2 linked regions of the Homo sapiens genome follow. The protein of the gene in region 1 interacts with the protein of each later gene in a pairwise test. Each region holds a gene or a part of one and is shown in the gene's direction. Other genes may lie near its edges.

Region 1 (7,029 bases):
GCGCTAGATCAGGGGAAGAGGGACATCTTTTTCTGATTAGATATACAGTAGTTTAGTTGGAGTAAAATGTGCAAATTCACTACAGACCCCACGGAGATGACAATGTTGCCCAGCGCAAACTCTTCACTTTCAGTGTATTGCCAGATTTAGAAAGGAAAGGAATAATCGTTGGACCTTATTTTTTCCCCTATTTTGAGCATCAAATACTTTTGATTGAAACTTCCTCTTTTGTCATCAGGAGGAAAACCCAATTGTCCTTCTCTGCTTTTTATTATTATTATTATTATTATTATTATTATTATTATTATTATACTTTAAGTTTTAGGGTACATGTCCACCATGTGCAGGTTAGTTACATATGTATACATGTGCCATGCTGGTGTGCTGTACCCATTAACTCGTCATTTAGCGTTAGGTATATCTCCTAATGCTATCCCTCCTTCTCTGCTTTTTTATTCTAAAACGACAACCTTTTGAAAGCAGCAGGGAATGAATAAACTCCCTGTACATCAGTCCAGAGTAAGCAGCCAGCCACCCCCAAATCAAGTAGATATTTTTTCTCTCTTTTTTTTTTTTTATTGTTGTTTATCCAAAATATTTTCCTGCCATTCTCATCAAGTATGTTTCAGGGGTTAGTTAACACCTCAGCTGCATACAATGGTTATAGTACCTGCAAAGCCATTGAAATCAAAACCAAACTTGTCAGTTGGTTAAGCTAATTCAAGGTTACTATTTTGAAAATGAAAACTGGATTTACCACCAAATGGAAACACTGCCCTGTACTGTCATAAAATATAGTAGTCAGTCAGCCATTTGACCCGGTTAGTACTTAGCCTATCTTTATTCTTAGTTTTGAAAAGACTTGGAATTATTATATGGCCATATTTTAAAGTGTAATTTAGGATTCAGTGATACTCTCAAAGAAATTATACTATCAAGAGTTAAACTATTTTATAATTCCCGTTCATGCCAGATTTGGAAGCCAACTTATCTGAGAATTTACACATCTTTTATTATCCCATTTCTTTACATACACGCATCTTTTTTTCCTCTTTTTTTTTTTTTTTAAGCCAGACCAGCTTTCTTTAAGTTAGTCTAACTCCTCTTTCCACCGAAAGACCTCAACTATTATATTCTTCCTCAATAGGATGCTCTTCTCTTTGTGAGCCCCACGGGAGTCATTTCTACAGCAAAGCCTTCCTGACCTGCAGAGGATTGATCTTGCCTCATCATATTCTCTTACCTTCCTGTACTTTCTACAACTATAAGGAAAATAATAAATTTTGTAATTAGATATTTAATGTATATTCCCTGACTGAATATAAGCTGCAAAGAGACAGGAACTATAACTTTCTGTATTCACTCACTACTATATATTTATTAAGGAATGAATGCAACATTATGTACATAGTAGGAAATATACAAACAAACAGCTCTCGCATTCCAAGGCAGATTACTTCTAAGCATAAACATTTTCTTTCCTTTGAGAGGCCAAAGCCTTTTGGCGTATAGATCATTTAAACTTAGGGAAGAATCTTTGGCAATTCCCCTTCTAATTGAAAATGCTTGGCCAGGAGTGGTGGCTCACACCTGTAATCCCGGCACTTTGGGAGGCCGAACCGGGCAGATCACGAGATCAGGAGATTGACACCATCCTGGCTAACACGGTGAAACCCCATCTCCACTAAAAATACAAAAAAAAAAGCTAGCCGGGCGTGGTGGCGGGCGCCTGTAGTCCCAGCTACTCGGGAGGCTGAGGCAGGAGAATGGCGTGAATCCGGGAGGTGGAGCTTGCAGTGAGCCGAGATCACACCACTGCATTCCAGCCTGGGCGAAAGAGCAAGACTCTGTCTCAAAAAAAAAAAAAAAAAAAGAAAATGCTGGTTTCGTTTTCGAATTTTGGGATAAAGCTAGCTAATAAATTTTATATTAGATCAACCATCCTTGATCCATTTATCAGTGTATTCCTATTTGTGAGTTATTTATGGTAAGCTCACTTTCCACTCCCTGATCTGAAGTTCAAAAAACTGGTATAAATGCTTGGAAGAAACTCAATGAAAACGGTTGTTCTAGTTCAATAGGATCATAACCATATCTGTGTTTATATAGGCCCTGAGAATAACATAATGGTATTCAAGTATCTTCAGAGAATAATGCTGGGCCAACAAGGAGTTTGAGATTGTCCCTACAAATGATATGGCTTGACCAACCAACCTAATGTTGGATGATGCTATTTAAACAGAAGTTTACGAAAGGAATAGAAAAAGAAACTCTATTATTTGCACTGTAACCTGAGTTTATACTGTAAATAGAATAAATTCACATTGGCTTTCTAGATTTGGAAAAATCTATATTTATACCTATGCAATACAATATCTCTTCCAATGGTAACATTTCTAAGGGAAGAGATATTGCCTCTTTCACTGTATGCTTTAATAAATGTAACAGCCCATATTGAGGAACTCTTTACATGTGTAAGGAAGAACTATTCAACAGTGAGCTATTTGCATTTAAGATAGGGAGTTACGGGTGAGTAATGAACTCATTCGAAAGATTCTAAGATCTTACTTAGATGACATTTGAAGGCAGGTATAAGGCCATTTGGTAGGGATATCCTAGTTCCAGTTTATCGGTCTTTGTGCATTCGCGTTGAGTTGAGATGACTATTTGCAGATAAACACACTTCATCTGCAAATAGATTTTTAAATCACTATTAAAAAAAAAAAAACGCTATTACTACTGAGGGCTGCCAGCACGCTGTCACCTCTCAATCCGAACATCAGAAGGAACAAACTCCGGACACACCGCCTTTGAGAACTGTAACACTCACCGCGAGGGTCCGCAGCTTCATTCTTGAAGTCAGTGAGATCAAGAACCCACCAATTCCGGACACATTACCACTTCTATTACACATAGCCATACTGACAGAATCCAAGTTTTAAACCATATCTAAAATGTGAATTAGCATAAACTATTTTTATTTAAGCTTCAAACTTGTCTTTTTTAATCCCAGCTAAATTCACACCAAAATTAATAGTGAAAAGAAAGGGGGAAAACAATTTGGGTTATTATTACTAAAGCAGACTGTATCATGGGAAGTGACGTCTTTGTATGTTATTGAAATTGATTTATTAAGAGAAAATCGTAATACGCATTTACAGTAATTGTGACCTCTGCTATATTTTGTATAGTAGGTGGCCATATGTAGGAAAGGGCATACATTATAGCACAATTTAAGTTATATCAAATCTGAGTTTGAGTCACAGATCTGTACTTCAGTAATTATGACCCTGGCTAAGTTAGTCCATCTATTTGAATCTCAATTTTCTCATCTATGAAAATAGATAGAAATGCTGTCTCTTTTATAAGATTGAGGTGAAAGGTAGGAAAAAGACATCAGTATGTCAAGGTTTCAGCACAGTGTCTGGCACATAGTAGTTACCCACTCCATGTTTATTAATATTATAATTTTAATTATAATTAAATGTTTAATCAAAGGAATTTTTAATTACTACCATTCCTGTAAGCTTAAAATACTTAAACATTTTGGGGAGGATGAGACTACATGATATATGTTGGGAACTTTTGTAGTAAAAAACATCTCCCACATAAAAATATTCAATAACTAGATAATTAGTCTCAGATTCAAAATGCATGATAACATATCATGTAACTTTTCTGTTCACATGTGAATTATATCATGATCTAATGTAGAAATGAGAAATGTATCCATTAAATTATCTATGAGCTTTAAGGGACATAATACAAAAGTTTGGCTAGAATGCAAACCAGAAAAAAAAAAATACTGCCCAGTGTTTATATCTTTAGGTACAAAACCACCACCACCTCTGTTCTTGTGGGATCTCACTAATCAAAAACAGGTTTATGTATTTCTGGGTTTTGGCTAACATCTCAACTTTAGATTTTCTTGTTCTCAGCCATATCACTTTCTGGAATGCTTAGAAGCTGTGCAAATTGGAATCCTAACCTCCTTTCTTCATAGGATCTCGCTGGAAAGCTATGACAAACCTAGAGAAACAGCCATATTATGAGGAGCAAGCCCGTCTCAGCAAGCAGCACCTGGAGAAGTACCCTGACTATAAGTACAAGCCCAGGCCAAAGCGCACCTGCCTGGTGGATGGCAAAAAGCTGCGCATTGGTGAATACAAGGCAATCATGCGCAACAGGCGGCAGGAAATGCGGCAGTACTTCAATGTTGGGTATGTACCTTTTAGTCATTTTTCTCATGGGGCAAACTTCCTGTTATACTTAATGGGATGTGAAACATATTTGTTCAGTTGCAAAAAGACATTTTGAAAAAGAATCTGAGCTCACAGTATTTTCAGAGACAAATAGTCTCCCACATGATCTTGAAAAATATGTCCATATGAATCCACTGCAAGTTCCTAGCTCTACCATGAGATTTGTTAACAACTGGTTTAAAAACAAGATATCTACAAGCAAATGATTTTGAAGTTTTCTATTAAAAACTTAGAAGTATAACTGGTTCTTTTCTTCATTGGTTTGCATTACTTCCTAAGCTTCACCATGATAAATTCTAAAACTAACAACTTTGTTGAGACAATACAAAATAAAAATCATTTCAAAAGCAAAAATACTTATTTCTAAATATAGAGAGGTTAGTGAGCTATCAAGGTACATGTGTGGCCTTTGTGGATCACACAAGCTAGGGATTATATTTAGGGTGTAACAAGGTTGGGAACAGGAGGTTTCATTCTGAATTGAGAACGCAGCTCCGAGATGTTTTACAATGCTCCCGTGGCAAGGTTGTTGACAGTGCTGTAGATGGGCTACAGAAATGCATTGCTTCTATAGAATTCTCTCAAAAACCCAAAATAAAGTTGTTCATATTTGAAACAGAAGTTAGTTTCTAAGAGCTTCTTAGAATAATAAATATTGTTCTAAATATGGGCAGAGAAGGACTCATAAAACCTTTCCAAATCTGCTCTGTCCCCTCCAGTTCCTTGGAAGAGGCTGCATGCTCTGTCCAGTGGTCTGTGATTCATATGCAAGCACATGACTCCTCACAAAGCTAAACACAATGCCCAACAGTTCTTGGGCAAATAGTAAACATACGAATGAATAAAAACAAGCATAAATGCACATCATCTATTCATCCTTTCCAATAGGACCACCTACATTATTTATAGGACCAGATGCAAAAATGAGGAGACAGGGTCTCTTGTTAAAAAGTTATTAAGAATTTCAAGTCTGTGGCAGCACAACTTTAAACCAAGTATGGGACCTTAGTGCAGTTGCACAGTTTGTACATCCATGAAGCTGCTCCTGCTTCCTACCACTACGAGGCCAGAACTGTTTCAGAGACTCAGTGGACAGTGTGAATTTGTTCAGTTCTGGTGTGTTCTGGGCAGTAAAGTTTTATTTTGAGAACTCTAATGCTTTAGGATTTTCCCATTAAAATTTAATTATCTTTAGATTTAATTCTAGGGAAAAATACTATTTCTGCATGTTATAATGAAAGAAAAATGAACTTGGAATCAAGGACCTGGGTTCTTCTGCTTCATCTTTCTGCACCTCAGTTTTTTAATAAAACAGTAGTAACAAACAGGATTAAGAATAAGATGGACAACACATGTCAATATCTTGTACTCTATAAAGCACTACCTAAACATAAGGTATTAGGCCTGGTGCGGTGGCTCACGCCTGTAATCCCAACACTTTGGGAGGCCGAGGCAGGTGGATCACCTGAGGTCAGGAGTTCAAGACCAGCCTGGCCAACATGGTGAAACCCCGTCTGTACTAAAAATACAAAAGCTAGCCAGGTGTGGTGGCAGGCGCCTGTATTCCCAGCTACTTGGGGGGCTGAGGCAGGAGAATCGCTTGAACCCTGGAGGGGGAGGTTGCAGTGAGGCAAGATCACGCCATTGCACTGCAGCCTAGGCAACAGGAGCGAAACTACGTCATCTCAAAAAAAAAAAAAAAAAAAGAAAAGAAAAGAAAAACAAGGTATTAAAGTTCAAGTAGGATGGAGTTTGAAAAATGTTAGGCAATTAGATAAAATTAGTACCTTAGAATTGGACATTGCTGAGCAAATTAATTATGTAGTAAAGTCCACATCTAACTATTCACTTACCCACGATGTCTTTTTGGAAATTCCTTTCTTGACAGGCAACAAGCACAGATCCCCATTGCCACTGCTGGTGTTGTGTACCCTGGAGCCATCGCCATGGCTGGGATGCCCTCCCCTCACCTGCCCTCGGAGCACTCAAGCGTGTCTAGCAGCCCAGAGCCTGGGATGCCTGTTATCCAGAGCACTTACGGTGTGAAAGGAGAGGAGCCACATATCAAAGAAGAGATACAGGCCGAGGACATCAATGGAGAAATTTATGATGAGTACGACGAGGAAGAGGATGATCCAGATGTAGATTATGGGAGTGACAGTGAAAACCATATTGCAGGACAAGCCAACTGATAAGGGTCAAAAGATTGTTGTGACCTTAGGACTTAAAGAAGCCCTAACTGGTTCATCCTTACCAGTGGCCAAGCACATTAACTTTCTCATACACTGACTGTTACTTTAACTGTTAGTCTTAAATAGTTGGGACATCAGCTGACTAATAGACCTCAGCCTCAAAAGGCTTGGAAAGAAAAAACAAATACAACAAGCAAACAACAATATCAACAACAAGAGATTGAAATAAGCTATGGGTAAAATAATGCCAGTAATTCAGCTGCTACATCCAAGCACTGAAGTCTTACCCGTCAACTTTTTTTTTTTTTTAAATAAACTTTATGGCTGTTTGTTCTACAATGTTCTAGAAATTCTCACTCAGGTACACAGTGCCAACAAGTGGCTTGTGAATGTGTTTTGTTGTTTTGTGCTACAATTTTTAAAAAGAAAAAAGTTTTGTTTTGTTTTTTGGGGTTTCTGGGTTTTTTCCTTTTCTTTTTCTTTCCTTTCATTTTTTTTCTTTGTAATGCACCTGACAGAAAAAAAAGAAAAATGAATTTCTCTTTACTTCTCTCCACCTTCTCCATCTCTCTACT
Region 2 (7,029 bases), on another chromosome or scaffold:
TCAGTACATGAACACAAGGTGCAACCGCACTGTCTATTATATGACCCCATTTACTCTCTGAATGGTACTTCATTAAATGGTACCTTTTGGCCATGCTATGGATGGATGAAAATCAAAGTTATCAAGGCTGCGAGTCCTGAATAATGAGTTTCACCCAACCTTGACTATATTCAGATGAGTCGAGGTGGCTAAGTGCTCATCCTAGCTTTTACATGCTTCCCTTTAGTTAATAATAAATTCTATTTTATCAGTTTGTGATTGTACGCCTACAAACATGGTATGCTTATTATTACAGGATAGCAGAATAAGTTACCGTAACATTGTAAACATGAGTGGTTTGCATTGAAAAAGATGTATTTCTCCTGTTTTGATAACTTTTAATGTGTTGGTAAAATGTACAGAGTCCTGTCACATATTCATCAGGATAGATATTTCATTGATTTGCAATTTGGTATTTTCTGGGTTCTGAATGTGCCATTTTGTTCTGGTTTGCAATTCTAAAAGTGAATATGTAACCATCCAGCTGAGTTTTTTTTTTTTATGTATGGGGAAATACTTTTCTTTTCTTTTCATATTTTTAACATACAAGTATGTAATGCTGATATTTTCTAAATATAACATTGTTATGTATATGTTCTGATGTTGATATTTTAGAATATTTGCAAAGTCACATACAGATGCATATGGATGTTTCTGCGTTTCTCAAACTATGCAGAGGTGCTCTTGTACATCCCAGAGAAGCTTACACCAGTGGCTTTGTAAATGTATTAAATGCAGCATTTAGGAGCATTATCTCAGCTTTCATTTATGTACGTAACAAAGAATTCCCTACCCAGTCTGCTGGCTTAGAGTATGAACAGAATAACAGTTTGTGGTTTATTGGGAACAGATGCACTTGGGGATGCCTTCAGGGTGCCAGTCGTTATTATTAGACTGCTAATGTGCTTCTTCTGGCTGCTGCCCAAGAAAGAAGAACAATTAGCTGGCATATGTTAATTTTTGTTTCCCTAACAAATCTCTCTACTGACTAAATGTGTAAAACAAATCCACAAAGAAAGATCAATCAATGCTGTACACATCATTTTCTCCCCATTAAAAAAAGGTTTATCTTAAGAAGTGTATTTGGGATTTAAAAAGACAGGTGTTACTAAATTATAAACAAAAGCTGAATATTCTCTATTTAGCCACTCAGCAGTTACTTTATAGAGAAACAGAACAATTAGAATTAGTTTTCTTGCTTGGTTGTATAGCCTACTGTATAAAGTAAAAAGGACCACAGATTACCTCTTGTGAATACCATTTAAATGTATGGCAGAAATCTTTTTATGTGCTGCCCTGCGTAAAAATTTTGCTAATTGGATGCTATTTATGACAAAAGATGTGTGGTAAATATGACAGAGGTGATATGAGTTTTTTGATAATGAAGAACAGGGCCTTTCTGAGGGGAGTAATGAAGGGCACACTGTTAAACAGCTTGCATACATTCTCACCTTTTTTCTTTTTTCTACCCTGACACCCACTTTCCAGGGTACATCAGCATTAAGTGACACTGTAATCATAAATTGAAAATGATACTTCCAGAGGAATTGGCAAACTTGACATTTCATTATATTTGTTAACACATGCCACAAATGATTGTTAGTGAGGAAATTCCATTTCCCTCTCTCCATCTCCAATCAGATTTAATTTGAAAATTTTCAGCCTCCTCCGGCTAATTTGCAATTAAGACAATTTTGTTTGAATATGTAGTAATGTCATTACCATTCCACCAAATTAGCAAGGAGACTAAAGGTCAGTGTAAAATTTTCCAGCTGGCTGGAGCCTCTCAGCTGAGATTTGGGACTACGAAAAAAAAAATTCTGGCATCAACAGAATAGCAACTTACTTTAAATCCTATTGGTTAAAAACATTGCATCCTTCATTATTGCTGTTGTTGTTGCTTCACTGGGGGCTAGACCTGTTTAACAACAGGGGCAGTCGATAATCAGCAACTGGCTTTTATTTAAGGAAATAGACTTTCGCTGAAGTCTGGTAGGACAAGAAGGAGTTAGTCCTAAGTAACATTGCAGTAGATTATTAGATAACCTCTAACAGAATCCTCTAATTAGAGTTCTTATGATACAATTTCATCCTGTAATTAGTTGAGATTGGCTGCTTCCTTTTGCAGCTTATTAGTGGCAACACAGCTGTAGAAGTGAATCCACTCTCATTTGTCAAACCTTTTTAAGTCTTTTTCTCTTGTCTCTACCTTTTTCCTGCCCTTCTCTTGGGCCTTTGCAGCTAAATCTGGTGTCTAGTGTCACCATGTCGAAGAATATGTTGGAGACATCCCCACAGAGCTTACCTCAAACCCCTACCACACCAACGGCCCCAGTCACCCCGATTACCCAGGGACCCTCAGTAATCACCCCAGCCAGTGTGCCCAATGTGGGAGCCATACGAAGGCGACATTCAGACAAATACAACATTCCCATGTCATCAGGTAGGATATGAATGCTCAGTAGAGCACTTTTACTTTGGGAGAGGAAAACTGTAGCTGAATCAACTGTACATGAGCCATTCCAGAGCACATGGAAACTCATGTCATGATTTATGGAGTGATAATTGTTTTATTCCTGGTAAATGCGAATAGGGGCGATTCCCTAAGCACATCATGATGAATTGTTCTGAATGGTTGTTCAGGAAAGAAAGCTCTCCCCATTAGAGACACTGAGAGATGTCAGGATAGCCCATATTATCACCTCAATTCAATGAGATCCTTTGATCTCTGAGGGAAGACTAGCAATCCAACATCTGTGAGTAATGCTGTAGAGAAGAGCCATTTTAAAGGACATATACGAAACACCGTTGCTTTATGCAAGACAGTTCGAGGTTTACATGAATCAGTCTTTATCAAGGTGCTACCTAAATGAAATCCTGTCACAGCTCCTAATGCCGATATGGCACTTTGCTTAAGAAGCATTGTGAGAGGCAAACTTTGCATTTGCATGGAACACAAATTTACCTTCTTTCCCTCTCTTACCCTTCTCCCTTCTCCCTTCTCCCCCACCTGCCATCCCTGGGGCATCTGGATAATCACAGTCACACATTGTAACCATTATTAGCCCAGAGCCCCCTCTTTACAAAAAGTGAAGTTATTTTCAACATGGGTGCTTGGTGAGGGTTTTGTGTTTCCTTTGTTAGATGGCCACAGATGCAGAGGTGAGCCTGTTGTACTTTAAGACGTATTAGATGAGAGAAGCAAAGATTATAGCAGGGGGGCAAAAGTCCATGTAAGAATATGCCTAAACTACCCACTTTAAAGAAGACCTGGCTATTGGAAAAAAATCCTCAGGCCAGCAGGTCGCACAGTTCCTGAAGTACCACGAACAACTAGGGGATGCTTCATTTGCACTTCGCGTCAGAAATGGCCTTTTCCATATAATTCAATTCCACTGTCATGCTTTGTGCTTTCACTAGTCGGTGGCTTCCTCACTGAATCACTTTACCAATACTAGAGGAAATATGAAAATTCAATTATATATAATGTGAATTATTAGCAGAATTAACACCTAGTTTTTATTTTTATAGAAATTGCCCCAAACTATGAATTTTATAAAAATGCAGATGTCAGACCTCCATTTACTTATGCAACTCTCATAAGGCAGGTAAGTAGAAGGAAAATTAACTTTGCCTGATTAAATTAAAATTCATTAATGCTTAAAGTAAGGCTTGGATGAGAAAGTGTCATCTAGTCTAGTTAGTAAACCATTATTTTATGTCACTATGTATCTTGTCTCATTTCAGGCTATCATGGAGTCATCTGACAGGCAGTTAACACTTAATGAAATTTACAGCTGGTTTACACGGACATTTGCTTACTTCAGGCGTAATGCAGCAACTTGGAAGGTAACTACTTTTCCAGCAGTTTTAAGATGCCTACCACAGTTCCTTACAGATAGCACAAGGAACATTTATTTACATGACATAAGCAGATTAGTATCTGCTTCCCCTCTTTTTAACCTGCCTCTTGAATGGAATGAATTCCCTCTCTCAAAATGACAAGTGAAAGAATAATTTTGCCTCTGATATAGTTTTCTAATTTGGTGCAATTAATAGCTGAGGCTTGGCAGAGAAACGAGGGCCTGACACACTAATTACAGTGTGAGCACTCAATCATCAACACCTTTGTTAGTCGCACGATATTACTTTTTCTCTTGCATATTATTGGCTAATTAGTTTGAAAAATGTCTGTTTGGCTTGTGCAACAAATGGAGGCTGTAGGTTTTGTCTTGGTCTGCGCCTTTTGTACACATCATACCTCATCATACAGACTGAAGCTGCCACGGGAGTGAGGGCCATGGCTACTCAGCTGGAACTAAAAGAAAGTAAAGTGAATATTATCCTGTCAGAACATAAATGCAGTTTATTTACTTAGACAAAAGGGTTCATCTATATCCCTGTCCAAACAACTTCATTGTCTGAATCTTACAAGGAGCTAAAAAAAATGTTAGTTCTATGCATCTATTTTTGGAAAAGAGCAACGTCTGGAAAGATAAGGGCACTCAGCACAGACTAAGTGAACTGTTTTATTTTCATTTCAAAAAGCAGTCAGAAACATCAATTAGCCACAAGCCATTTGGTACAAAAGGGGAAAATGTTTGTAGCTGAGAAGAATAGAAGCAGCAAAGCACTCATCAGCATACTGAGAATTTTAGACTGTGAGATATGCTAAAGTGAATTAATTTGGATTTAAAATGCAAATTAATCTGGCAAGCGATTACAGATATATGGGTGTGAGACTCAGAATGCTTTTAATTTACAAAATGTTTAGATGTTATTAGTTGCTACAGTATGTGGTACTGTAAATGAATGTAATTGTTTTATTTATGCACAGTTACTTGGTATATATTTTATATGATGAAAATGTCAGCAATAATCTGTGCAATATATGTTTTGGAGGGTTTTCAGTAAGTAATATTTATGTTGAAGATTTACATTTTCTTTTGTTACTCATTAGATAATGTAGTGAATGTTCTGTCATTTGATTTACTGAAAGAAATTTTAAAAGAAATGAAAGATGATTTAATATCTTAGCTTGGTCTCATCTCCACAGCTCGGGGATCCAGCAAAACTCATTCTGAACAGCTTATTAGTTCTAACTATATCGCATGCATAATAAAACTGCTCATTTGCTCATTAATATTAAAATTATCATATTCAGAGCCATGGGCATTAAGATCAATCAAATCCTTGGATTTCAGGTCAGATGCTAGATCTGCTTATGCTTTTTTTTTTTTTTTAAGAATTCTTCTCTTAAAGCAAGCTAGAAGCAGCTTGTCTTTGTGCAAATAGAAAGAAATCTTCATCAAAATTACTTTGTTTTATATTCGTAATATAAGAATTAGGTCATTTCTGAGTACTTGATAGCTATATGCCAATGTACCTTGACAGGAAGAAATATTTGCTTAGGTTTATAATTTGAATTATGGAAAATACTCGATGTAAATTATGTGGTCTACTGTATATTTATTATAGCTAAAATTTTAGGAATGACTTAATTTGATTTAAAAATGTTAATTTTGAGTAATTACTCTAATACAAAGCTGCCAACAACATCTGTTTGCATAATCATTATGGGAAGAAAATGTACTCTCGGGTTCCAGCAACGACTTTCAGTTGAGTTTAACATTTACAAAAACTTTATTGGGAATTTAAAAAAAATCTAAGTGTGTCTTATTGTGCAGGCAGAACGTTACACTGTAACTTGCATATGTCATCTAATAATACAGAATAAACAAACTCTGTCATTTCATTATTATAGGGATGAAAAGAATGCCTTTGAGCTTATTTGCATAAAGCTTTGTGCAAAATTAACACTTGTCACTGTAGCCTTTTTAGCATTTTAATACCTCAAGCAGGACTGGTTCCTTTGGACATTTCAACCATCCCTGAGTGCTTGATCAGGGACACAACAGAGCTGACCTAATTGTTCTGGCATTTTCAAAGATACTGTAATTTGTACAGATATTGCAATTTAGACCAGTTCAATGAAAGGAAGGTTTTGACACAGCTATTATTAAAATAGCTTGGAAGGTTCTCTTATCACAAAGTTCAAACTGCAGATTCCAGTAATTTGTAAGTTTGAGGTTTGTAATATCATGCCATATTTTGATTTTAATACTTAAACATGTTAAGATTTTTCACTCTGATTAAGTAAGATCAATAATGTAGTATGTTGGGCTGCCTTATTAGACAATATTATTTTTGCCATTTTTTCTTCTCTTCTGTCTGCTTTAGAATGCAGTACGTCATAATCTTAGCCTGCACAAGTGTTTTGTTCGAGTAGAAAATGTTAAAGGAGCAGTATGGACTGTGGATGAAGTAGAATACCAGAAGCGAAGGTCACAAAAGATAACAGGGTATGTTTGTGATAGTTTTGTAATCCTGTATCCTGCATCCACCAGGAAAAGTAAATACTTTAAGTTGGGGCTGGGGTGGGGAGACAGTTAGCTTAATGGCATGCTAACATTCTCGTGGCAATGAACTGCATTTTGAATCTAGGTGTAGGTGGCATAAATCAACAGTAGCCTATCAATTTTTTCCGTAAAAATCATCACAGGACTGTTTTGGTTACTATTTTCATCAATTCAGCATTTCTACGTGTATCAAAAAATTGTTTTTCAAGATGGAACATGCTTTCTAGAGAGAGAGAGACACTTCCTGTTTTTATACAATACAGTAGCTTCCAGTAGAAGCTAAAAGGCTTTTTAAAAATGAGGCTAATTTTGCATATACTGGTAATCCTGAAAGTACCTTTTTATGAAGAATTTATGAGAAGACTTTATAAAAAAATAAGGCTATTTCTTTCTCAAATACTCTCATTTTCCAAGACAAACTTTATCATTTGGACCTACCTTGCTTTTACTCCAACTGTGATGGTTTTCTGTACAGTGCTGTTGAGATGACCAAGGTATACTAGTGTGAGAAAATTACTGGCTGGGAAGTTTGAATTTTGTTTGTTTTATAGAGAACAAGACTGCCAAACTT

What was found. Proteins that work in one complex are often made in the same cells at the same time.
Region 2: the proteins of SOX5 (region 1) and FOXP2 come close enough for resonance energy transfer, tested with the Homo sapiens proteins (one study listed by BioGRID).

What each region holds. Positions count from the first base shown.
Region 1 is NC_000012.12:23,533,644-23,540,672, reverse strand, and holds part of SOX5 (transcription factor SOX-5), read left to right. Parts: intron 1-4,003; coding exon 4,004-4,220; intron 4,221-6,150; coding exon 6,151-6,454; 3' UTR 6,455-7,029.
Region 2 is NC_000007.14:114,655,786-114,662,814, forward strand, and holds part of FOXP2 (forkhead box protein P2), read left to right. Parts: intron 1-2,280; coding exon 2,281-2,482; intron 2,483-3,570; coding exon 3,571-3,647; intron 3,648-3,786; coding exon 3,787-3,888; intron 3,889-6,279; coding exon 6,280-6,401; intron 6,402-7,029. UniProt on the Homo sapiens protein: Transcriptional repressor that may play a role in the specification and differentiation of lung epithelium. May also play a role in developing neural, gastrointestinal and cardiovascular tissues.